Homo sapiens: one gene and its partners. The protein of the gene in region 4 purifies or fractionates together with the protein of the main gene of each other region. This does not show direct contact. Each region holds a gene or a part of one and is shown on either strand. Other genes may lie near its edges. The genes, in order: RFT1, VKORC1L1, DIPK1A, ATP13A3, ATP9A, DPY19L1 and BRI3BP.

Region 1 (3,500 bases), about 140 Mb from region 4:
AAAACATCAACTTTGCATTAATGACCTGTATAAGAAAGTACTGTTGATGGAAGCATTCTGTATCTTGACTGTATCATCGTTGGTATCCTGGTTGTGATATTGTACTATAGTTTTACAAAATGTTACCACTGGGTAAAGGGTATATATGGGATCCCTCTATTACTTCCTATTTTTTTGTCTTTTTTATTTATTTTTTATTTTTTGAGACAGGGTCTCATTCTATTGCCCAGGCTGGAGTGCAGTGGTACCATCACAGCTCACTGCAGCCTCAACCTCCTGGGCTTGGGTGATCCTCCCACCTCAGCCTCCCAAATAACTGGGACTACAAATGCACACCACCACGCCTGGCTAAATTTTTCCATTTTTGTAGAGACAGGGTTTTTCCGTGTTTCCCAGGCTCATCTCAAACTCCCTGGCTCAAGCAGTCCACCCACCCTGGCCTCCCAAAGTGCTGGGATTATAGGCATGAGCCACCGTGCCTGGCCACTATTACTTCTTATAACTCTGTGTGAATCTATAATTATCTCAAGATAAACAAACTTTAATGAAAATATTAAATAATTTTAATAGTGCTATAAAAATTAAAATAGAAAAACCAACATGATTGTTGTTTCTTCTTTTTTGTTTTGTAGGTGTGTATGATATAGTGAATAATCTTGGCTCCCTTGTGGCCAGATTAATTTTCCAGCCAATAGAGGAAAGTTTTTATATATTTTTTGCTAAGGTGCTGGAGAGGGGAAAGGATGCCACACTTCAGAAGCAGGTAATGTTGGTTCTTATGTCATCTCTCAAGTGAATTCTCCCTTTAATTGCAAGACAGACAGGAGTGTGAAGCAGTCTGTTTCTCTTCTGTTTGATCAGGAATTTTCTTATAGATTTCATTCTTCTATTACATTCTTCATGATAGTGGGACCCAGGGCTCACCTCTTCTTTCGTGGCCTTCTTGCTTTGCTCTTGGCTGTCCCTTCCTTCTCACACCTTTGTTATTCGTTGTGACCTTACTCTTTTTGGGGGGGGGGGCGGGGATAGAGTCTTGCTCTGACGCCCAGCCTGGAGTGCAGTGGCATGACCTCGGCTCACTGCAACCTCCACCTCCCAGGTTCAAACGATTCTCCTGCCTCAGCCTCCTGAGTAGCTGGGACTACAGGCATGCGCCACCACACCCAGCTAATTTATGTATTTTTAGTAGAGATGGGGTTTTGCCATGTTGGCCAGGCTGCTCTTGAACTCCTGACTTCAGGCAGTCTGCCCACCTCAGCCTCCCAAAGTGCTAGGATTACAGGTGTGAGCCCCCATACCTGGCCATGTGACCTTACTCTTGATCCAGCCCTCTCAGGACTCTAAAGCTGTCCCCATTGCCCTGCAGATGCCCAGCCATGGGCTAGTCTTAGGCGTAAGAATGCTTCCCTTATCCTCAGAGTCTCAAGAGCCAAAGGATGCAGAAGTTGGAGCCAGGCTAATCAAGGGCATAGGGAGGAGAGGAAGTGGTTGTTGGCTTTCGCTCACCACACCAATTATTTAAGCTTCTTACAACTGGGACATGCCCAGAGCTACACTCTGACTGTAAGATTCTGTATACTCGGGTTGGTAAATACAGAAGAAGAGATTTTAATCTAGGAGTATTTTGTTGTAGGAGCTTCACTTTTTCCAAAACCACTGAAAATGTCTGACTTTTCTTAGAATAGCAAGCTAGTTCAGCCTCTTGCTTGTCTTAGAAGAAATTTAGTAAAATACAGTTTATGCACAATATCTCAAAATGAGCTAATCTGGTACTCAGTCTGATTTAGGAATATTTTCCTAAGAGTACCTTCACAGTATCATCATAATTTTGGAATGTTTAGCAGGAGAAGCACAGAGCTGGCTAGTGTATATGAAAACTTGCTGCACATTTAAGAATAAATATTAGTGGTCTGGTGCAGTGGCTCATGCCTGTAAGCCTCACGCTTTGGGAGGCCAAGGCAGGAGGATTGCTTGAGGCCAGGAGTTTGAGATTAGCCTGGTCAACATAGTGAGACTCCCTTCTCTATTTCTATTTAAAAAAAAAAAAAAGAACAAATATCAGAGGGGAAAGTGAGTGTTTCCTAAGCAATATTTGAAACAATTTATCCCAAGTGAATTGAAAACTAACCCTCCCCCTTACGACCTAAGGAGACACACACTTTTTCCTTCATTTGCTAACTGACGTGAAAACAAACACACTACAAAAAAATAGTGATATCCATCACGCTGTTGGAAGAGTGAACTGTAAAACAGTGAAGGGAGAAGGCCAGACGTGAAGGATGAAGGTTTTCTTCAGCTCATGATTCATCCAACTTCCTTCCCTCTTCCCTGGCCCCAGGAGGACGTTGCTGTGGCTGCTGCAGTCTTGGAGTCCCTGCTCAAGCTGGCCCTGCTGGCCGGCCTGACCATCACTGTTTTTGGCTTTGCCTATTCTCAGCTGGCTCTGGATATCTACGGAGGGACCATGCTTAGCTCAGGATCCGGTACGCACAAGAGTTTTTCTGGATTTTTTCTGATTTCCCAACATAAATAGAAGAGTCACGAAATTCAAGAACTTGTGCACACACAGTTGTTATCTGTGTCAGTGTAGGGAAAACTGTCTGGTGGCAGGGGCTGTGGGACTGTTCCCCTCGTTCAACTCCAGACACACACTCAAGGTATAGGCAGGGGCGTTGGCGCCAGGACAATCAGCTTCCCCAGCCTCACTTGGAGAAGTTATTAGGACTTCTCCTTGCTGTTGGCTTTCCTCTCGGGCCTAGAATGTGTTTTGCCAAGCGCTTCCCTGTGCTCCCTCTGGGGTGAGGGAGGAAGGCAGAGGGCAGACGGTAATGAGTCTCCACTTGGTACTAAACACATCTGAAGATAGTAAATGCCACATAAATCTCCCAGCCTAGTGCATAAAAGCCTCTGAAGGATAACCCAAAGCCATTTGCAGAGAATAAAATTGATCTCTGCAAATAAAATGGTATATTTAATCCAGTGACTCTCAGTTTTTGAAGAAGAAAAGTATTGAATGTGTCTAATTTTGAAACACCAGGCCGCTGAGGATCTCACAGCACTTGTTAGGTCTTGGGGACTTCATCAATTTCAAAATGTGCTGGGCTGTAAGCTGGCAGTCCATTTGCAGTGCTTCATCTTGGGTTTAGCAAAGATGTTTTTAATTTCTCAGGTCGCTGGACAAGAACGCTGAGGACTTCTTTCTGCTGCCCCATCTCAATATAAAGGGCTTTGTCAAATGCCATTTTACAAGTTCACTAGCATGTTTTAGTCTCCACTACAATGGGGCCCAAACTTTTGGTGTTAGGGGAGGAAGGGCCAGGTTTCTATACCAGAGCAAAGGTCATTAAGTTTGGAGAAACACCTGCTGTGAAACCAGTGAAGTGGTTTGCAGCTCCCTGGGGCTTGTGCTGTGAGAAGTGTATTTCCATCTGGCAGCTGTGGGGAGGCCTCATGAGGAAGGCATTAGTAAGTTTATGGGCAGAGATTGGGAACTCGACTAT
Region 2 (3,493 bases), on a different chromosome or scaffold from region 4:
CTATGGCCCAGTCGAATTAATACCCTTTTTCTCACTGAGAGAGGAACACGTACTGCCTGTCATAACAGCATTGTAATGCCAGTGTCTCAGTAACAGAATCCTGGTGGGTGTTAATTGGGTGTTTTTTGCCCTGGAGAATTCAGATTCCTTTCTATACCTCCGATTCTGCCCAGAAGAGGGGGGGAATCACCAGTGTTACAAAATTAGAAGATTGTTTTGCCTGTTTTAGACTGAATATTTGAACACTGCAGCATTACTAGCCACCAGTGTTAAAGGACAGATGAGGGGAAACATTTGTTTTTAGCAGTAATTCCATGCCTCATCTTTTTTAAGTGATTTGTTCCAAATGAAGCCATTTATTGACTTGATGTTCACAAATATCATTTGAAGAAATAACAGGAATTGGGGTTAGATGATAAATTCTAGGGAATCTAGGTGATTTGGAGGATTTCATTTGTTTTGCATTACAGCTAGTTGCTCTCACTAAAGGTAAATTTCCGGTGAAATAACTCAGGTTTAACTAGCTGTGTGCCCAGAATCACTGTTCCTTCATACATGTGTCCTCTCCTTAAATTCATTACTTTCAAATGATGTTCAAAGCATTGACTATTTTCATTCAAAGAAACTACATTCGGCCGGGCACGGTGGCTCACGCCTATAATCCCAGCACTTTGGGAGGCCGAGGCGGGTGGATTACCTAAGGTCAGGAGTTCAAGACCAGCCTGGCCAGCATAGTGAAACCCCATCTCTACTAAAAATACAAAAATTAGCCAGGCGCAGTGGCACACCCCTGTAATCCCAGCTACTCGGGAGGCTGAGGGAGGAGAATTGCTTGAGCCCGGGAGACAGAGGTTGCAGTGAGTCAAGATCATGCCACTGCACTCCAGCCTGGCCAACAGAGCGAGACTGTCCCCCCCCCAAAAAAAAAAGAGAGAGACTGCATTCAAAGAGGACCAAGACTACAGTGAAATTAAAACTGTTTGCTGGCTGGGCATGGTGGCTCACACCTGTAATCCCAGCACTTTGGGAGGCCGAGGCGGTTGGATCACCTGAGGTCAGAAGTTCGAGATCAGCCTGACCGACATAGTGGAACCCTGTCTTTACTAAAAATACAAAAATTAGCTGGGCATGGTGGCGGCACCTGTAATGCCAGCTCCTCCAGAGGCTGAGGCAGGAGAATTGCTTGAACCCAGTAGGTGGAGGTTGCAGTGAGCCACAGTTGCGCCATTGCACTCCAGCCTGGGCAATGAGTGAAACTCTGTCTCAAATAAAAAAATAAAAATAAAAACTATTTGTTGACTTTTGTTTTTCATTTAGTTTTGGAAAAGACTATTTGCAAAAGTACAGAGTTATCTTCAGCAATTACTTCACAACTTAGATTGGTACCAAGAGTGACAGGAGATCTTGTCTTGGAAGATCATTATTAGATGCCAACAAGGAGACCCACTGTGATTTCTGGTAACCTATTTGGGGAAAAAGACCTAATGACCTAATATGCAATTTCTGTCCTCGTGTCTTTTTCTCTAACACACAGTCATGGGTGAAACATTTCAGACACCTCAGGCAGCACTTATGGTTTCTAATTGTGAGAACTACCCTTCCATCAAACAAAAAGGGCAAGGGTGGGAGCCCCGGCTACTTGGTTAAACATTTTTTACTACAAATTCGCCCAGAAAAGGTGAAATATTTTGTTATAAAACTGTATTAAGCATGGCCTAAGTATTTATTAGGTATATGATCTGTGTAGTATGTTCCATCAGAAATATTTCTTACTAGTGCTTTAAGCTCCAGAGTAAACAGTCATTTAAAATGGAGTTCACTGGGCAGGTTTCCCCTTTAATCTAGATAGAAATACTCTTTATCAGAGATTTAAGGCACTGTTTTGCTAACTGGTAAATAAAACCAAATGTAAATATGTAAGAATGTTTATTTGTTGCACATAACTTTTTTGGTATAAAATAAATGTAGAAGTTACCTGTGGAAGTTGTGCTCCCATTATTCTTAAACTGCAGGGTTGCATTCCAAAAGAACTGAAACGAAGTCTTTTTAGACTCAGTAGGAGCCTTATATTCTTGAAGTCAATACTGTAACCTCATTTCTAAGGTATACAGGGTTGATTCTTTTTCTCTTAAATCATATGTAACTTGCAGAAGATTCAGAGTCCTCAGACCTCTAGTTCTTGGAATTCCTGTAGGTTTACGGTGTATGTGATTGTCAAGAATTAATGACAAAAATGTGTCACTGCCTACAGTTCTGTGAACACTCAGAATGTATTAATGAGCTGTTTTTCCATAGTTTTACTTTAGCTTACCTTGAATACTCCCTGTATAATCCTCTAAAAAGGTAGCATCGGCAAGAAAGATGAATCCGTTGGAAATACAGCTGAGCCATACTTCACGGAATAGAACAAGTGTGTTCTGTGCTGGAGCTCAAGACCTGTGGAAAGGGACTGCCCCCACTGGGTGCAATGGCTCATGCCTGTAATCCCAGCACTTTGGGAGGTAGAGGCGGGTGGATCACTTGAGGTCAGGAGTTCAAGACCAGCCTGGCCAACATGGTGAAACCTGCCTCTACTGAAAAATACAGAAAAATTAGCCAGGATTGTGGTGTGCGCCTGTAATCCCAGCTATTCAGGAAGCTGAGGCAGGAGAATTGCTTGAACCAGGGAGGCGGAGGTTGCAGTGAGACGAGATCACGCCACTGCACTGCAGCCTAGGCGACAGAGGAAGACTCCAGCTCAAGAAAAAAAACAATGGACTGCCCCTAATTTGTAAACCATTTAAATGTGTCTATTACATTTAACTTTTCTTAATGTTTGTCAACTAAAAGTTTTATTCATTATACTTTGACATACTGGAACACAAAACTTGATTCCTTTGAAAAACTAAAGAGAAGTTGATAAAAAAAATACAGAAGCTCTAGATTCCTAATTGGAACTGACTACACTCATTTTTAAAAAATGGACGATGCCTAATAAAACCACATGAAATTAACTTTATTCTTTCTTTCATGGAGCTTGCACAGGAAAGCTAAAAAGGAGGGTCTGTGTGGAGACACGGGGCTCAACCACAAGAGAGGGGAAAATCAAGTTCTATAGCAAGAACCATATTGGAGGCCGGGCACAGTGGCTCACGCCTATAATCCCAGCACCTGGGGAGGCTGAGGCGAGCAGATCACCTGAGGTCAAGAGTTCGAAACCAGCCTGGCCAACATGGTGAAACCCCATCTCTACTAAAAATATTTTTAAAAATTTAGCTGGGAATGGTGGCAGATGCCTGTAGTTCCACCTACTTGGGAGGATGAGGCAGGAGAATTGCTTGAACCCCAGAGGTGGAGGTTGCAGTGAGCCAAGATTGCGCCACTGCACTCCAGCCTGGGCGACGGAGCAAGACTGTCTCAAAACAAACAAAACAAACTGTATTGGTTCATTGTCTTTCAACTGACTGGACACCAAAAGGAGTATTTTTCCAAAGCGTATACTTCAAATCAGAAT
Region 3 (3,500 bases), on a different chromosome or scaffold from region 4:
CCACAATTCTAAGAGTATACTCATTTTATTTCACCTTTTTTGAATTAATTTTCATGTCAAACTGTACAGCACTCCAATTAATTAATGAACTCCCTCCTCATATCTGGACATTTTTAGCTATCATAAATAATGTTAAAGTAAACATTCTCCAACACAGATTTCTTTTCTTTTTCTTTTTTTTTTTGAAACAGGGTCTCACTTTGTCGTCCAGGCTGGAGTGCAGTGGTGAGATCTTGGCTCACTGCAACCTCGACCTCCCAGGCTCAAGCAATCCTCGCACCTCAGCATCTCAAGTAGTTAGGACTACAGGCACATGCCACCACTCCTGGCATATATATATATATATATATATATATATATATATATATATATATATATATGTGTGTATATATATATGTGTGTATATATATATATATATATACACACACACGTATATATATATATACGTGTATATATATATATATATAGCTGAGGTCTTACTATGTTGCCCAGGCTGGACTTGAACTCCTGGGCTCAAGTGATCCTCCTGCCTTGGCCTCCCAAAGTGCTGGGATAACAGGCGTGAGCCACCACGCCCGGCCTCTTATAATTATTTCCTCAGGATGGAGAATCTGATAGAGGTCAAAGAATATCAACACTTTAATGGCTTAGGATGAGGTCCTGCCAATTCCTCTAAAGAGTCCCACTTCACACTAGCAACATATGAATGGGTATGCTTACCTTAAAGAGACTATAGACCATTTCTTTAAATTTTTGTACAGTAGTTCCTCTAGTTGGCTTATCAAATAGCACTATTTCTTTTCTTGGTTCCAATTCAGTTCCAAAATCAAGATGAAGCGCTTGTTCCATTTGACATTTCACAACACCTGGTAGATTATCCCAAATCCCTAAATACATCTATGTAAAAAAGAGTGGCAAGTTATGTATTATACTGAGTAGAAAACTCTAAAAAATATACTACTATATTTTTAGGGTCCTCCTCCTCTGAACAAAACAAAACAAGCATCAAACATTGAGGTTAAGGTGTGACTTTATTTCTGAACTGCAAACTTGAAATCACACTCAAGATTTTTTCCTTAAACTAATTTTTTAAATTATAAGAGTAATGCATGCCTAAATATATTTTTCAAAAAGTCCAATGAGAAGGATGTAAGGCAAAAGCAAAGTTCCCAGACATTCTACTTCCATAATCCCACTTCCCCAGAATTAACTACTATTTAAGTATCTAGTTATTTATCAAACTAATATTATATAGTGTTAACTATGTCCTATGGTCTACTAATTTATTTTAGAGACAGGGTCTTGCTTTGTCACCCAGGCTGGGGTTCAGTGGCATAATCATAGCTCATTGCAGCCTCAAAGTCCTGAGCTCAAGGAATCTTCCTGCCTCAGTCTCCCAAGTAGCCAGGACTATAGGCATGTACCACTAAACCTGGCTAATTAAAAACATTTTTTGTAGAGATGGGGTCTTGCTGTATTGCTCAGGCTGGTCCTGAACTGCTAGCCTTAAGTGACCCACCTGCCTCAGCCTCTCAAGTTGCTGGGATTGTAGGTATGAGGCACCACACCTGGCTTTTACTGATTTATGTTATTATTTTAATCCTTGTACCAATCTTAGGTGGTAGGTACTATCATTATACTTATTTCACTGATGGGGAAACTGAAGCAGATACAGGTGAAGTAACATGCTGAAAAGAGCTGAGGTCTTTACCACTAGGATAGGTTGCCCCTCTTCTACATAAAAAAATAAATAAGATCATATTCATTCTTAATATTAATCCAAAGAAAACATTATTTCACTGCCTTGCTCCAAACCCTCTAATAAATTCCCCTTTCAATTAAAGTCCAAAGTCCTTTCCATGACCGGTTGGGCTCCATTTGAGCTAGCCTCGCCTATGTCTCCAACCTGATCTTGTACCACGTACTCCGTTTCTCAAAGTCCCAGCTACACTGGTCTTTCTGTGACAGGTTGAAGCTTGTTTCTGCTTCCTGACCTGCTTCACTTGCTGCTGGCTCTGCCTGGAATGTACTCTCCCAGATCTTCACATGGCTGGCTCCTTTACATCATTCAAGTCTCAGATTAGACATTGCATTTAGAAAGCCTTCCCTGACCCCCTGTCTAGAAGAGATCCTCTTCCACCCCCAGGTCACCTCTAACCCTGTTTCATTATCCTCATAGCCTTTTGCACTGTCTAAAATTATCATATTTATTTATTTATCAGTTCATTACTATCTGTCTCATCTCACATTAGAACATGAGGCCAGAGGCTTTATCTGTCTCCCTCAGTGCCTCAAACAGTGCCTGGCATGCAGGAGACACTCAAATGTTGGACTTTGTTTTAGAAATTGTCTTTAACATGATTAATACTGTCAACTGAAAAATTAGTTTAAATTTCTATAATAATAATGCATATTTATATAGGAAAATTTAGGAACCATAAGATGAACATTAAAATGCAATTTTCCACTGCTCCAGATGTTTCGTTGTATTTTCTTCTACCCCAATTAGATATTCTACTGTTTTATTCTTATTTCTCTGATGAAAAGTAAGGTAGAATTTTTTTTCATTATGTTCATCAGCTGTTTGCAGTTCTTTTGTGATTTAGTTCATCCTGTCCTTTTCCCATGCCTATGAATTTTTTATTAAGGTATAAGTTCAAATATTATTTCAGAAAGGTCTTCTCTGATCACATCCTCTAAAGCACTTCTCACCATCCCTTACACTGCATTCTCTATCAATTTGCCCTCTGTGTCTCCTACAGAACACACCATATTCTACAATTATTTTGTTTGTTTATTTATTTATTTATCAACTGTTTGTACCTCCTGTCCCTCTGGAATCATGTAAGGTCTGTAAGGGAAGCAATCTTGTCTGGTTTTTTTTTGTTTTTTTTTTTTTTTTTGAGACAGGGTGTCACTCTGTCACCCAGGCTGGAGTGCAGTGACATGAACACGGCTCACTGCAGCCCTGACCTCCTGGGCTCAAGTGATTGTCCCACCTCAGCCTCCCGAGTAGCTGGGACCATAGGTGTGTGCCACCACACCCAGCTAATACATATATATTTTTTGAGACAGTCTCGCTCTATTGTCCAGGCTGGAGTGCAGTGATGTGAGATCTTGGCTCACTGGAACCTCCGCCTCCCAGGTTCAAGCGATTCTTGTGCCTCAGCCTCTGGAGTTGCTGGGATTACAGGCATGTGCCACCACACCCGGCTAATTTTTTGTGTTTTTAGTAGAGAGGGGGTATCGCAATGTTGCTCAGGTTGGTCTTGAATGCCTGGCCTCAAGTGACCTACCGCCTCAGCCTCCCAAAGTGCTGGGATTACAGGTGTATGCCACTGTGCCTGGCCACCCAGCTAATTTTTGTATTTTTTGTAGAGACAGGGTTTTGCTATGTTGCTCAGGTAGGCCTCAAACTCCTGGACTAAAGCAATCCACCCACCTTGGCCTCCTGAAGTGCTGGGATTACAGGCCCGTGCCACGGGCCCGGCTGTTTGTAT
Region 4 (3,500 bases):
GTTTTAAAGTACAAGAATTCCAGATGTTTATCGTATTCTTCAGGTAACTAGTGGTAAATGATGCAGGTGGTCCATCATACTCAGTTCATGCATCATTTCAAATTGAAGCTGATATTTAATTGAGTTTCTTTTTACTTTGAATAAATGTCCGGCTTTCATCATGTTGTGGAACATATCAAATGAAAGAATTCAGTTTTAGAACAAATATGTTTAAAATAGAATTGTTTTACTTGGTTTGGTTGCCTAAATATTGTTCCCAATGTCTCATATACACAGGCTATTCCGGTTAAATTGGTCCATGATAGCTTAGAGGATCTTCAAATGACTCGTTATCATTTTGCAATGAATGGAAAATCATTCTCAGTGATACTGGAGCATTTTCAAGACCTTGTTCCTAAGGTAAGTAATTTGGGTGTATGTGTGTGCTCACATGAATGCATCGCAACAGTATTTTAAAAAAATTTGTATTATTGTTTCCAGTTGATGTTGCATGGCACCGTGTTTGCCCGTATGGCACCTGATCAGAAGACACAGTTGATAGAAGCATTGCAAAATGTTGAGTAAGTATTGGTGTCTTTTTTGGTTTTGGTTTTTGATGAATGATGGTTTCATTTCAGCATCAGAAAAATAATTTTTATATGTTTCTTATACTAATATTTCATATTTATATATATAATTGTGATCTATAAGATAGTTCAGAACTTTAAGTGCCGCTTTAAAAGAGTCTCATGTGCTTTTTATTTAGCTAAAGTACAATATCCACAGTTTTTTCTCTATGACTTCATTCTTTCAGGTGCTCTATCTTGATAGAAGTGGCTAATCATTTTAGTAAACAGTTATGTTTCAGGTTATTAAGGGATAAATTTTTACTGATAACGTTAAAAGTAGCCATACTAAAGACTGTAGGCACAAGCGCTTTGCTCTAAAGATGAGGAAATTGAGACACCAAAATGATTTGCCGATAATGTGACAGAAATAGGACAATAACCTAGCTCATTTCACTTGTGGTCTGGTGCTGTTTGCAAAGCAGCACACCTGTGTTCATTATAGTGAAAAGATTCATAGTTCCACTGGGGGAATCTTGGTGTGTTAGCTCTTTATAATACTGTAATAGAAAAGTCTTAATAAGTTAAATGTTTTGTAGTTTAAGAAATTAATTAAAATCTTAACATTGTTTTGTTTCTTAGTTATTTTGTTGGGATGTGTGGTGATGGCGCAAATGATTGTGGTGTAAGTATAGTTTTTGTGATTTAGTTTTATAGTTCTTACTCTAGCCTAAATCATATTCACAAAACTTAACCAGTTTTCTTAAAATTATTAGGCTTTGAAGAGGGCACACGGAGGCATTTCCTTATCGGAGCTCGAAGCTTCAGTGGCATCTCCCTTTACCTCTAAGACTCCTAGTATTTCCTGTGTGCCAAACCTTATCAGGTAGTACAAATTAAAATTTTTCTCATCCCTTTTTCTCTGTCTCTGATAATACAGAAGAGAAAATTATCATAAAAAGTAACATGAATTTGTTTAATATTAGCAGATTAGCACATTTGAGCTGTAACTTATTAGTAACAGATTGATTGCTACTCCTCATTTGGTTTAGTTCTTTTGGTGGATAAGCACTTTGTTGTAGCCGTTGAATGTTGATGTTCATCTGTCAAGATAAAATTGTGGTTTGGAAAAGGAGTTTAAAATGCTTCTATTCATATGCCGACATTTGATTTCTTTTCACAGGGAAGGCCGTGCTGCTTTAATAACTTCCTTCTGTGTGTTTAAATTCATGGCATTGTACAGCATTATCCAGTACTTCAGTGTTACTCTGCTGTATTCTGTGAGTATTAACATTGTGTGCAGAGATAACACTTAATGTGCACCGTAAATTAAGATGTTGAGCGTATGTGTTTGATTTTGAATGCATCCATTAGTAATTGTTTCTGTGAGTAGTACCTATAAATTTACCTTCAATTTACTGTAGTTTGAATAGCAAATTGAAAAAGTTAAAATGAGAAAAGATGTTTCAACAGTGGTTTGTTGAATTTGGAGAATGGTTTGCATTTGGAGAAAAAGTATAAACAGCGATGGCCACAGGTACCCTATCAGATTTTATAATCAAAGTGTTCTGACATCCTAAAGACTCATGGTGACACTATCCCATTTGACCGTTTGTAGAAAGTATCAGAAGGGATGGTATTAGATGAAGATACTAATTTACAACGTTGAATATTTTGAGTAAATGTTTGTGTTTTCTTTTTGCCAAAAAAACCATGTTGGCCAGGGTGGTCTCGATCTCTTGACCTAGTGATCTGCCCGCCTCGGCCTCCCAAAGTGCTGGGATTACAGGTGTGAGTCACCGCGCCCAGCCTATTGAACGAATTTTAAGGAGATGCCTTTTATACTAATATACTAAATCAAATATTTATAAATATATGTTATATTTAGTTTCAGAGACACTTATATTTCAATTTTTAAGCAGGTCCGAGTGTCATTTTTAAGTTGTCATTATAGGGAAAATCCAAACTATTAATAAAACCTGGGGACGCTATAAAAATAATTCCCAAAAACTAATAATGTTTTTAAAATTACTTCTGTAGATCTTAAGTAACCTAGGAGACTTCCAGTTTCTCTTCATTGATCTGGCAATCATTTTGGTAGTGGTATTTACAAGTGAGTATTTTGCTTTGTTATTGATTTTTAAAGTGTATGAAATTCTGATGTGACTTATTAAATTTTTGTAAATTTACATCAACAATTGTAACATAGCTCACACCTCTCCAGATTCCTTGTAAATATGTTATTTTATTACCAGTTGTTTATATCTTGCGCCAATTTTTTAATTGTTCTGTCTCTATTTTTTTCCCTGAAATATTTGAAAATAAGTTTTGAGTCATTATGCTCTTTTGCCTCTGACAATTTTAGTATATATTTTCTAAAAGCAAAACCATTCTTTTATGTAACTAAATACAGTTGTAAAGATCAGGAAATTTAACATTGATATAATATCTGGTGCAAAACCTATATTCAGGTTTTGTCATTTGTGTCAACAATGTCCTTTATGCCTATTTTCCCGTAGTCCCCTAGATTAGAACAAAAAATATCTCCAGACATTGCCAGATGCTCCTTTGGGGTGCAAAATCCTCCAGTTGAGAACCACTTATCTTTAGTAGATGATAAAACTAGTGAAAGTTTGATGAGGAGCAGGATTTTCACAGTCTCAAAGTATCTTTTCACAAGGTGCTAGTTACAAAGGGAAAAATAGAAATTTCTTTTTTTCTTTTTTTTTTTTTTTTTGAGACAGAGTCTGTCTCTGTCACCCAGGCTGGAGTGCAGTGGCACGATCTCAGCTCACTGCAACCTCCGCCTCCCGAGTTCAAGCGATTCTCCTGCCTCAGCCTCCTGAGTAGCTGGGATTACAGGTGTGCACCATCATGCCCTGCTAATTTTTATATTTTTAGTAGAATCGGGGTTTCACCATGTTGGCCAGGCCAGTCTCTAACTCCTGACCTCAA
Region 5 (3,500 bases), on a different chromosome or scaffold from region 4:
AAAATTAGCCAGGCATGGTGGTGCACGCCTGTAATCCCAGCTACTCGGGAGGCTGAAGCAGGAGAATCGCTTGAACCCAGGAGGTGGATGTTGTAGTGAGCCGAGATCGAGCCACTACACTCCAGCGTGGGTGACAAAGTGAGAATTAGTCTCAAAAAAAAAAAAAAAAAGAATTAACATTAAAATTAACATTACATGGGAATAAACCTTCCCTTGGGTAAAAAACCCTGAAGACAAATAAAATTATACACCTGCCTAGGCACACGCCACCACACACACTTTTTGGAACTGTACACAAGAACATCTCTGGGAGCAAACGTTAAGTTGCAACTGCAAAGCGGAACTGTCAGGGGCTTTTTGCAAGTCGTGAGTTGGCTTGTTTTCAGTTTATCTATTACTGTACTTTTTCACGTTCTTTATACCAGTGAATATATTACTGCTTTAAGAAAAAATGTAAACTCCCACACCTTCCCCCCAAAAGTAAAAAAGCTACCAGTTCAAGTGTGTTCAAATCAGAATTGGAGGGTCTGTGTGAAATAAATTCAAAGAAAAAAAGCAGGGAGGGAGGGAAGGAAGGGAAAAGCAAAGGAGGAAAGGAGGAAGGAGGGACTGAAAAGCTAACAGAACCTTGAGAAGATCCTTGTAGAGCTCAGGATACAGCATGGCAACTTCCGATTTGACATCTTTGTCCAGGACCAGAGAAAACACAGGAAACATGGTGTAAATTGTGGAGTACCTGGGAGAGAAAACCGCCATAGGTAAGACCTGGCTGACGCGATAGGAGCTATGTGCTGTGCCAGCCTCCGGCACCCAAGTCCCAACCATGCCTCTAACAAATATTTACTGCTTGTCTATTATGCTCCGGGGCTGGCTGTAAGCACCAGAAACCCATGAGCAAAAATGGACAAAAATGTCTGCCCTGAAGAGCTTTCATCCCGGTCAGCGAGTCAATAAACAAATAAATTAGGTAAACTCTATGTGTGTTAGAGAAGTGCTAAAGAGAAAAATATAATGGGGTAGAGGAAATAAGACGTGTGTGTGTGTGTGTGTGTGTGTGTGTGTGTAGGGGGTGATGGTACAATTTTAGAGGCTGAGGAACAGAACATTTGAGTGAACACCCACAAAAGGTGAGGGCCAGCCAAGCCAATCCCAGGAGGAAGAGCATTCCAGGGAGAAGGAACCACCAGTGCAAAGGCACTGAGGCGGGAGTGGCTGTCATGTCTGAAGAACAGCCATAAGGCCAGTGGGGCTGGGGCTGAGGGCGACGGAAGAGGAAATGAGGACCCACGGGAAAGATGGGACCAGACCACGGAAGGTCGCACGGCGCACAGCTCAGGGAACCCCTGACTATATTCTGTAATGTTCTTGTACTCTTCCAGAACCCGACGAAAGACAGCCCGCTTTTCCAGTTAGAAGCAGGCAGAATTCTAGTGCCTCCTCTCAGGCTGAACTCATCAGCCAACACAGTAGGATGGAAAGCGGACTCTGTGAGACTCTCCAGAGCGCAGCTGACCTTCCCGCACCCGCCGTCTCCTCATAACCAGAAGTGGCCTCAGCTGCATGTGTCTGTATCTAGGGCACTCGGTAACCAAACTCCACCTACCTGGGTGATTCAGAGACTGAGCACATTCTCTGAAAAGGTCAGAAGGATCATCCTGAAGTTCCAGGTCAGTAATGGGGGTGGGTTTGCAGGCTGCAAAGGCCCAAGTGACACCATCTCTGTCACTGTGGCACAGCAGCCAAGCTCTGTTACTTGCACATCCCCGAGGCAGTGGACTCTGGCCCTCCCTGGAGCTCCAAGGATGGGACTTCTACTGGGCTCAGTTCAGGCCAGGAGGGCATTTTTCAGATCCCCCACCCCTTTTTATTAAGACCCCAGTGAAATCACCAAGTCTGCAAACCTTCCACCTTGCTCTCCTCAATCAACTGATAACTCTGGAGTATTTTTTCAAGACCAGGTACAAATGGCAAAGTGCAACACACCACACACATCTCCAACTCCACTTCCTCCATCTGGTTAAGGGCTTAACAGCTCAAAACCTTGTTAATTGAAGGAGGTTCTAAACCATGGTGCTGGGCCTGCATTCGCTGGGGCTGGGAATCCAATGTGGCTTGGGAACCCAAGAATTTTTCCACCACGTTTCTTCTCTCTGTTGCAGCATTTGAAGAAGGTTTTGTAAACAATTAATTCCTTGGCAGGATTTCCTTACCCAATGATGAGGAATCCTTGATAGAGAGGGACGGAGGCAAAGTAAAACACGGAGGAAAAGACAGCCTGTGCCAAGGAGAGAGGAGGATGTCACCAAAAGTCATGACAAAATCCCTTACATTTACAGAATAAAAATAACACCTGATACTTACATAACACCCGCGCCGGCACTGCTGTAAGGTACTTTACATGGATTTGCTCATTTCATTCTCACAACATCAACAACAACCCTATGAAGTAGGTACGATTCTCATCATCCTCATTATGCAAAGCAGAAAGTGAGGCATAGAGAGGGTACGTGGCTTGCCCAAGCCCACACAGTTCCTAAGCAGCAAATCTAGGAATCATTCCCGGGTAGGGTGATGTATCACAGCTCCAGGGTCTACTCAGCCTGTTGTGAATATTTATTAAGTTCCAGGACCCAGGAATGCTTTGTACATGAGCACAGCTGATCTCCAGAGCAGCCCACAGGATCAAGCCCTACTATCACCCACACTTTACAGAAGGGGAGGCTGAGCAGGTAAACAGCCCTATGGGACTCAAGCCCAGCTGTGGCCACAGCTCTGTGGCCACACTTCTAAACAGCTCGGAATCCTCACCTCTGTAGGCATGCACGCTGCTAACCAAAGTGCCGTAGGTATGGAAACACATACAGAAAAAGAGCCTCTGAAGTGTCTACGGGGGCTGGGATGGCAGAAAAGGCTTCACTTCTTATATTACATGTTTCGGTATTTGGGGAAATTTTTGAAAAGAGCATGGTGACAGATTATTTTTGCAATTAGACAAAAGCAATGAAGATATTTACAAACCCTCGCGGAAATGTCTGCTTCCTGCTTTGGAAAATATTAGCTGCTGGTAATGATGAATAGGCTGGGGAGATCCAATCAGGCTTGAAGCTCTGTTAGCTCCATCTCTGGACCTCTATGGGCTAACAGAGGAAACACGGTCTCCAAGCTGATATCCATTCATATAAAGCTGAAGGAAGGCCAGAGACAAATGCTGCCTGAAAGCTTTTAGAAAGCAGAAGAAAGCAAGGCAGAGATACCCTAGTCATTAGAAATAGCATCAGACCAGGGCTAGCTCCCCAGAGCACCTTCAATGGACACAGAGAGAAAGCATGTAAGAAACACGTGCTTTCTCGGCACAGAGCTCAGAGCGCAGGTGATCCTGAGCGCCATGGCCACAGGAAGCCCCAGTTCGCCCTGGCTGCGCCGGAAAAGCCACTTTTCCAGTGACTTTTCACCCAGGCTGTGCCGCTGCTTAGGAAGGATGGTTGTAAAAATGTCAAGAA
Region 6 (3,500 bases), on a different chromosome or scaffold from region 4:
TAACACCTTTAATTTATAATAATCAGTCATTATAAAAGTATCAAAATATAGACCTACATACATTTTAAGAAATGAAAGTCACCATCATCTCCAATAGCATTTCTCAGAGGTGACTTCTATAAACAATCCAGCATATATCCTGCTGGACCTTTTTAAAAAAAAAAAAATTATTTCAATAGCTTTTGGGAAACAAGTGGTTTTTGGTTACACGGATAAGTTATTCAGTGGCAGTTACTGAGATTTTGGTGCACCCACCACCAGAGCAGTGTAAAGTGTACCCAATGTGTAGTCTTTTATCCCTCACCCCACTCCTCGCTTCCCGAGTCCACAGTCCGTACCATTATTATGCTTCGCATCCTGGTAGCTTAGTTCCCACTTATAAGTGAGAACATACAATATTTGCTATCTGCTGTATCTTTCTCCAATGTCAGACACACATACAGACACAGATATCATTATATACATAGATGCTGTGATGGTCAGTATTGAGTGTCAACTTGATTGGATTGAAGGATCAAAGTATTGTTTCTGGGTGTGTCTGTGAGGGTGTTGCCAAGGGAGATTAATGTTTGAGTCAGTGGACTGGGAGAGGTTGACCCACCCTCAATCTGTGTGGGTACCATCTAATCAGCTGCCAGCATGGCTAGAATAAAAGCAGGCAAAAGAATTGTGGAAGGACTAGACTGGCTGAGTCTTCTGGCCTCCATCTTTCTCCTGTGCTGGATGTTTCCTGCCCTTGAACATCAGACTCCAAGTTCTTCAGTTTTTGGACTCTTGGGTCTACACCAGTGGTTTGCCAGGGGACCTTGGGCCTTCAGCCACAGATTGAAGGCTGCACTGTCAGCTTCCCTACTTTTGAAGTTTTGGGACTCAGACTGGCTTCTTTGTTCCTCAGCTTGCAGATGGCCTATTGTGGGGCCTCACCTTGTGATCGTGTGAGTCAGTACTCCTTAATAAACTCCATTTCATATATACATCTATCCTTTTTTTATTTTTGAGATGGCGTTTCCCTCTGTCGCCCAGGCTGGAGTGCAGTGGTGTGATCTCGGCTCACTGCAAGCTCCACCTCCCAGGTTCACGTCATTCTCCTGCCTCTGCCTCCTGAGTAGCTGGGATTACAGGTGCCCACCACCACGCCCAGCTAAGTTTTTGTATTTTTAGTAGACATAAGGTTTCACCGTGTTAGCCAAGATGGTCTCGATCTCCTGACCTCATGATCTGCCCATCTCAGCCTCCCAAAGTGCTGGGATTACAGGCGTGACCCACCGCGCCCGGCCACATCTATCCTATTAGTTCTGTCCCTCTGGAAAACCCTGGCAGATGCTCTTGAGTTGTTTTTACAAAAATGGAATTATTCTGGGACTGTATACTGAACAATAAAACGTGGAACCATTTTTCCATCTCAGTGCATAAAGATCTATTCTACTGTTTTTAAAAGCTGCTAGTTCTCATATGTACTATTTAACCAATTCTTTACAGACAGATACTTTAATTGTTTCCCATTTTGCCATTATAAAGCAATGCAGCTACAAACAGTCTTGTGCAGAGCTCCCTTCTGCAAACTAAACCTCTAGAGCAGCGGTCCCCGGTCTTTTTGGCACCAGGGACTGGTTTCCTGCAAGACAATTTTTCCATGGGCTGGAGGGTGGGGGCGATGGTTTTGGGATGAAATTGTTTCACCTCAGATCATCAGGCATTAGATTCTCATAAGGAGCACGTACCCTAGATCCCCCGCATGTGCAGTTCACAATAGGGTTCATACTCCTATGAGAATCTAATGCTGCCACTCATCTGACAGGAGCCAGAGCTCAGGCTGTAATGCTTGTTCACCCTCCGCTCACCTCCTGCTGTGAGACTGGGTTCCTAACAGGCCACAGACCAGTACTGGTCCATGGCCGGGGGCTTGGAGACCCCTGCTCTAGAGGCAACATTATCACTCTGCCAAAGGACTGCACAATTTTTTTCTTACCTTCCCTTCATCAAACTATCCCCTAGAAATGTTTTGCCAGTGAGTGTTCCCATGAAGAGGGCTCAAGTGCACACTTTTTGCACACCTTTGCTGACACTGGTTTCTACTCACATGGAACACCTATGATCATATGGCTGGGCATGGGTTTTCTACCTTGTAATTTTCTCATACACGTCAAGGCTGAACTGTTACAACACTGAGGGCCCACGGTGGCAGAGAGTGAGACACACAGAAAGTAGAGAACGACCCACAGTTTTCCTGAGTTCAACAGCTTTTAGGAAAAAGAGAGGGCAAACAGCTGTCTTGGGGAGCTCTGTTTGCCTTGTGCAACACTATTTAGTCCTCATCTGAGTTTCCCAAGGTTTCCCCAGGCCAGCCATCTGCAAATAGCATTAGTGAAAATCTGAATAATTTCCTTCTAAATACATGTATTCTATGTCAACTCTATTATTGGAGTAAAAGAAAGCAGAGAACTGTAGTTAATTTAAAACTAATCTACAACTTGCATGCAAATATATTTGAGTGTTTATATTTAAACACAGTGTCAAATATTTAAGGAATAATCAAGCCATACAATTAAGCCACTTGTAAATGAGATCATTTAAACATAGTGCTCACCAATTGCCAGGCACAGATTAAGCACTAGATAAATATTGGTCCCTCTTCCCCTTCCTCTCCTAACTGAGTTCCCCATCTGCTTCCCCCATTCCAACATACTTTCACGTCCCAGCAATCTACAGGGGTTTCAGGCTGATCATAACTGAAATGGAGAGTGAAGGCCAAGGAAATAAGGAAGGTCCCAAACCAGGCAGAAAGCTTTGTCAAGAAACTTCCTACTCTAAATGTAAACACTAGATAAATATTAGTCATTCTTCACTTTCCTCTCCTATCTGAACTCCCCATTTGCTTCCCTGTCAGGACAGAAAGCACAGCTTTTGTTTTGTGTCAAGGTTGAAGCAGAGTGGACCTGTCCAAGGTTTCCTGACAGTGTGTCATCAGCCTGGCTTAGATCTTGTACTAGATGGAGAGTGTTGTTTTAATGAGTGGGGAAAACAGATGAGAGAGTCACTTTCGTAGCTTCCTCCCACTCAACTCCTGCTGTGACAGACACAATAAATGGCAAGTCAAGGTCCAGATGGGGAAATCCAGCACACCCTCTTCTGCACCCCAACTCTCAGTCTGATTGCTCGTAAGTGACTTGAAGTCAGTTCAATGTCTGCTGATTTTGTTTAGTGTGCAAAGTTTATTGCCATACATCCTGAATTTGCCTTCATATCCCTTCTTGTGTGGGTAAAACAGTGCTCTGCCTACCCAAACATGAGACTGTTAGAGCTATGCAAATCCAGGGAGCTCTCCCAACACTCTACAGCACAAAGCCTCTGCAACTTTCACATATTCAAACTCTATGCAGGGGTCTAGGCAGAATATGAACTCTCAAAGGCTCATTGTTAGCTTGGAGAAAAAAGGTTACGAAAATTATTTTTATGTTCCAGTAACTTACAGTTGTTTCAAGAGAGTGAAGCCCAAAGAA
Region 7 (3,500 bases), on a different chromosome or scaffold from region 4:
GCATGCCTGTAGTCGCAGCTACTCGAGAGGCTGAGGCAGGAGAATCACTTGAACCTGGGAGGAGGAGGTTGCAGTGAGCCGAGATCGTGCCACTTGCACTCCAGCCTGGCGACAAAGCGAGACTCCAAATAAAATAAAATTAAATTAAAACATAAAATACTGTAGCTGCCCGGGTGTGGTGGCTCACGCCTATAATCCCAGCACTTTGGGAGGCCGGGGTGGGCAGATCACCTGAGGTCAGGAGTTCAAGACCAGCCTGGCCAACATGGTGAAACCCCGTCTCTACTAAAAATATGAAAATTACCTGAGTGTGATGGTGCGTGCCTGTAGTACCAGCTACTCGGGAGGCTGAGGTGGGAGGATTGCTTGAACTTGGGAGGTGGAGGCTGCAGTGAGCCGAGATCATACCACTGCACTCCAGCCGGAGTGACAGAGCGAGACCCTGTCTTAAAAAAAAAAAAAAAAAAAAAAAGCTGTAGCCAATTCACGGAGGCATTTACCCTTCACACGTGAGCCGAGTGGCCCATGTAGGTGGGTTCTATTATGGCAGCACTCTGCGTGATGCAGCCCTGCAGAGTCCCAGCCCCCATAGATACCTTGGTCAGCCCTTACAAGGGAAGGGGCGTGTTTTACTCAGTTTTGCTCAGTTGTTGGGCTGTCATCAATTAGTATCAAGTTCAAGTTAATCCCCTGGGCCAGTAGACCACTTGGTGGCATTCATCATGGGCTCGCTGTTTTTTCCCCTGTAATAGCCAAGGCTGGAAACCATGTAGGTATCCATGAGTATGGGCCTGGCTCCAGGTGTACCATGTTTAAAAAGGATGAGGCAGCTCTGTGTGGTCTGAGTGTGAGTATCTCCAAGACAGAGTGTTGCATGAGCAAAGCAGCTCAGCTGTACACCTGTGCTGCCATTGCAGAAAGAATATGTCTGTGCCATTATTCACCTGGCACGTCTAAGGAAGGGTTCCTCCGGAGGGGGATTCCAGTTGCCAGGAAATGAGAGGGAAGGCTTAGTCTCCACTGAATACCTGTTGGTAGGCTTGAGTTTTATGCTACATGTATACAATATCACTAATTTTTTAAAAAAAAAAGTTAAAATGAGGCTGTACCTTGTATTCATGTTTCTTTAGCCCTGTGTCACCTGGAGGGCAAATAAAGACCTCAGAGGCTCAGGGTCCTTAGAGTTGGATAGAGCATGGGGCTGTATCATTACCAGCTTCCTTGGAGCAGAAACTTCCACTCTTTAAAAATGAGAAACCCGCAGGGTGCGGTGCAGTGTTTCACGCCTATAATCCCAGGACTTTGGGAGGGCCAGGCAGGAGGACTGCTTGAGGCTTAGAGTTTGAGACCAGCCTGGACAACATAGCAAGAGCCCATCTCTACAAAATAATAATAAAGCCTGGTGTGGTGGCTGCACCTGTAGCCCTAGCTACTTGGGAAGCTAAGGCAGGATTGCTTGAGCCCGGGAGTTTGAGGGTGCAGTGAGCTATCATTGCACCACTGCACTCCAGCCTGGTCAACAGTGAGACCCTGTCTCTTTAGAGAAATCAGGCAGAGGAAGGCAGAGATCCTGACCCAAGAGGAAGCATGAAAGACAGCAGGAGCAATGGCAAGCGGCGTAACGCGGCCCTGCAGAGAGTCCCAGCCTCCATAGGTGCCTTGTTCAGCCCTTGCAAGGAAGGGGTCGTTTTCACCAGTTTTTCTCAGTTAGGCTGTGATCAGTACCCAGTTCAAGTCAATCCCCTGGGCCAGTAGTCCACATGTGTGGTATTCATCATGGGCTCACTATTTTTCCCTTCCCAGGTATAAACTCCCAAGCTCCCCAGTTCACTGCTTGACTGATGGAGGAAAACAGTGATTGGGTGATGACCGTTTTCTTGTTTCTGCAGTTCTTGGCCAGGCTGACTGAGAGATTTGTGCTGGGAGTGGATATGTTCGTGGAGACACTGTGGAAAGTCTGGACCGAGCTCTTGGATGTTCTTGGACTTGACGGTAGGTGTAGGGGTGGCATTCACGTAAGGTGTCATTCTATTTTGGTGGTTCTCATAGTGTGGAACTGGTACTCACAGTGAGTAATACATGAGAAGGTTGCGGAGGGCTGGTCAGTGAGGATATGAGTGAACATTTTTTATTTTAATAGTCTCATATATAGGCCAGGCATGGTGGCTCATGCCTGTAATCCCAGCACTTTGGGAGACCAAGGTGGGAGGGTTGCTTGAACCCAAGAATTCAAGACCAGCCTGGGCAACATGGTGAGATCCCATCTCTATAAAAAAAAAGTACAAAAAAATTGCTGGGTGCAGTGATGTGCACCTGTAGTCCCCATCCACTTGGGAGGCTGAGGCAGGAGGATTGCCTGAGATGAGGAATTCGAGGCTGCAGTGAGCTATGATCATGCCACTGTACTCCAGACTGGACGACAGAGCAAGACTCCTCTCAAATAATCATAAAAATAAAAAACAAATGGCCCATCAAAGCTGAGATTTCCCAGATGCCACTTAGGATAAGGTGCGACTGGGTAGTGGGAGTGCCAATTTGTGTGCAAAACACATGGACCAGAGGTATAGTGCTCTGGCTTACTGGCATCCGTGCAAGAAATGACTAGTTATTTAGGCAGAAGGGGATTTCATGAGACAGAGACACTCACAGAACCATCAGAAAGGCTGAGGAAGAGATGCATGGCCTCAGACACTGCCGAACTGGCTGTCCAGGGTTGCAGCTGTTGAAACCGTTGAGTTCGAAGTCACACAACTGTAGTATAATTTGAGGACCAGGAGGCCACTGCTGCCGCCACAACAACTAGACTTTGCATGTGGGTGCAGGGACCCTTGCCATTTCTGGAACCATGCATATCAGCTGCAACACTTCACTTAATTTCCAAAGTCGTGTGTGTATGGGGGAACTGCCAGGTGGAACTTACTTTCTGTCCAGTCCCTAGCTGCGAGGGAGGCAGGCTAATGCGGTTCTTAGCTCTCCAGCTTCTGCCATCCAGGAAGGCAGCCTGGGAGCAGGTGTCACCTGATGCTGCACCAGCCCATCCACCATACCCACCGCACAGGGCAAGAATTGCCAGGGGAGCTGGCCCCTGGTTTTGTGGGCTAGGGGAGGAGGGTAGTCCAGTTTGATAGTGCAGTGCTAGTCACACGTTTATAATCAGGAAGAGAACATTGGTGAGGCACGGCCCCTCCCTTTCTACATGTGGGAGGGGGCACTGATACTGGTCTTGGCGGATGGCAAGGCAGCAACGGTCATGGTAACTGAGCTGGGCACTCCTAGTCCAGTCCTGCAGCCTGTGCTACCCCCAGCCTTACACTCCCCTTCCCAGGTGGCTCTGCCCCACCTCCACCTGCATTCCATCGGTGGGTGACAGGAGCTAACCCGGGCAGAGTGCCCAGGGTGTACAGCTTTTATACCCAGAGGAGACCTTGTCCCTTACCGCCTTAAGAGCTTCAGAGGCATCCCATGCTCTCAGGATGAAGTAACCTTCCCGTTTTCTCTAC

The links.
Region 1: the proteins of ATP13A3 (region 4) and RFT1 purify together in Homo sapiens (affinity purification with mass spectrometry; one large-scale study listed by BioGRID and IntAct). This does not show direct contact.
Region 2: the proteins of ATP13A3 (region 4) and VKORC1L1 purify together in Homo sapiens (affinity purification with mass spectrometry; one large-scale study listed by BioGRID and IntAct). This does not show direct contact.
Region 3: the proteins of ATP13A3 (region 4) and DIPK1A purify together in Homo sapiens (co-immunoprecipitation; one large-scale study listed by IntAct). This does not show direct contact.
Region 5: the proteins of ATP13A3 (region 4) and ATP9A purify together in Homo sapiens (affinity purification with mass spectrometry; one large-scale study listed by BioGRID and IntAct). This does not show direct contact.
Region 6: the proteins of ATP13A3 (region 4) and DPY19L1 purify together in Homo sapiens (affinity purification with mass spectrometry; one large-scale study listed by BioGRID and IntAct). This does not show direct contact.
Region 7: the proteins of ATP13A3 (region 4) and BRI3BP purify together in Homo sapiens (affinity purification with mass spectrometry; one large-scale study listed by BioGRID and IntAct). This does not show direct contact.

Annotation. Positions count from the first base shown.
Region 1 is NC_000003.12:53,102,936-53,106,435, reverse strand, and holds part of RFT1 (man(5)GlcNAc(2)-PP-dolichol translocation protein RFT1), read left to right. Parts: intron 1-632; coding exon 633-763; intron 764-2,338; coding exon 2,339-2,483; intron 2,484-3,169; coding exon of another isoform or gene 3,170-3,222; exon of another isoform or gene 3,223-3,241; intron 3,242-3,500.
Region 2 is NC_000007.14:65,956,566-65,960,058, forward strand, and holds the end of VKORC1L1 (vitamin K epoxide reductase complex subunit 1-like protein 1), read left to right. Parts: 3' UTR 1-2,993; downstream 2,994-3,493. UniProt on the Homo sapiens protein: Involved in vitamin K metabolism. Can reduce inactive vitamin K 2,3-epoxide to active vitamin K, and may contribute to vitamin K-mediated protection against oxidative stress.
Region 3 is NC_000001.11:92,846,463-92,849,962, forward strand, and holds part of DIPK1A (divergent protein kinase domain 1A), read right to left. Parts: intron 898-3,500; coding exon 721-897; intron 1-720.
Region 4 is NC_000003.12:194,428,003-194,431,502, reverse strand, and holds part of ATP13A3 (polyamine-transporting ATPase 13A3), read left to right. Parts: intron 1-276; coding exon 277-399; intron 400-480; coding exon 481-560; intron 561-1,187; coding exon 1,188-1,230; intron 1,231-1,321; coding exon 1,322-1,431; intron 1,432-1,728; coding exon 1,729-1,825; intron 1,826-2,585; coding exon 2,586-2,658; intron 2,659-3,500. UniProt on the Homo sapiens protein: ATP-driven pump involved in endocytosis-dependent polyamine transport. Uses ATP as an energy source to transfer polyamine precursor putrescine from the endosomal compartment to the cytosol.
Region 5 is NC_000020.11:51,607,891-51,611,390, forward strand, and holds part of ATP9A (probable phospholipid-transporting ATPase IIA), read right to left. Parts: intron 2,276-3,500; coding exon 2,211-2,275; intron 737-2,210; coding exon 628-736; intron 1-627. UniProt on the Homo sapiens protein: Plays a role in regulating membrane trafficking of cargo proteins, namely endosome to plasma membrane recycling, probably acting through RAB5 and RAB11 activation. Also involved in endosome to trans-Golgi network retrograde transport.
Region 6 is NC_000007.14:34,932,986-34,936,485, forward strand, and holds part of DPY19L1 (protein C-mannosyl-transferase DPY19L1), read right to left. Parts: intron 1-3,500. UniProt on the Homo sapiens protein: C-mannosyltransferase that mediates the C-mannosylation tryptophan residues on target proteins.
Region 7 is NC_000012.12:125,010,645-125,014,144, forward strand, and holds part of BRI3BP (BRI3-binding protein precursor), read left to right. Parts: intron 1-1,889; coding exon 1,890-1,992; intron 1,993-3,500. UniProt on the Homo sapiens protein: Involved in tumorigenesis and may function by stabilizing p53/TP53.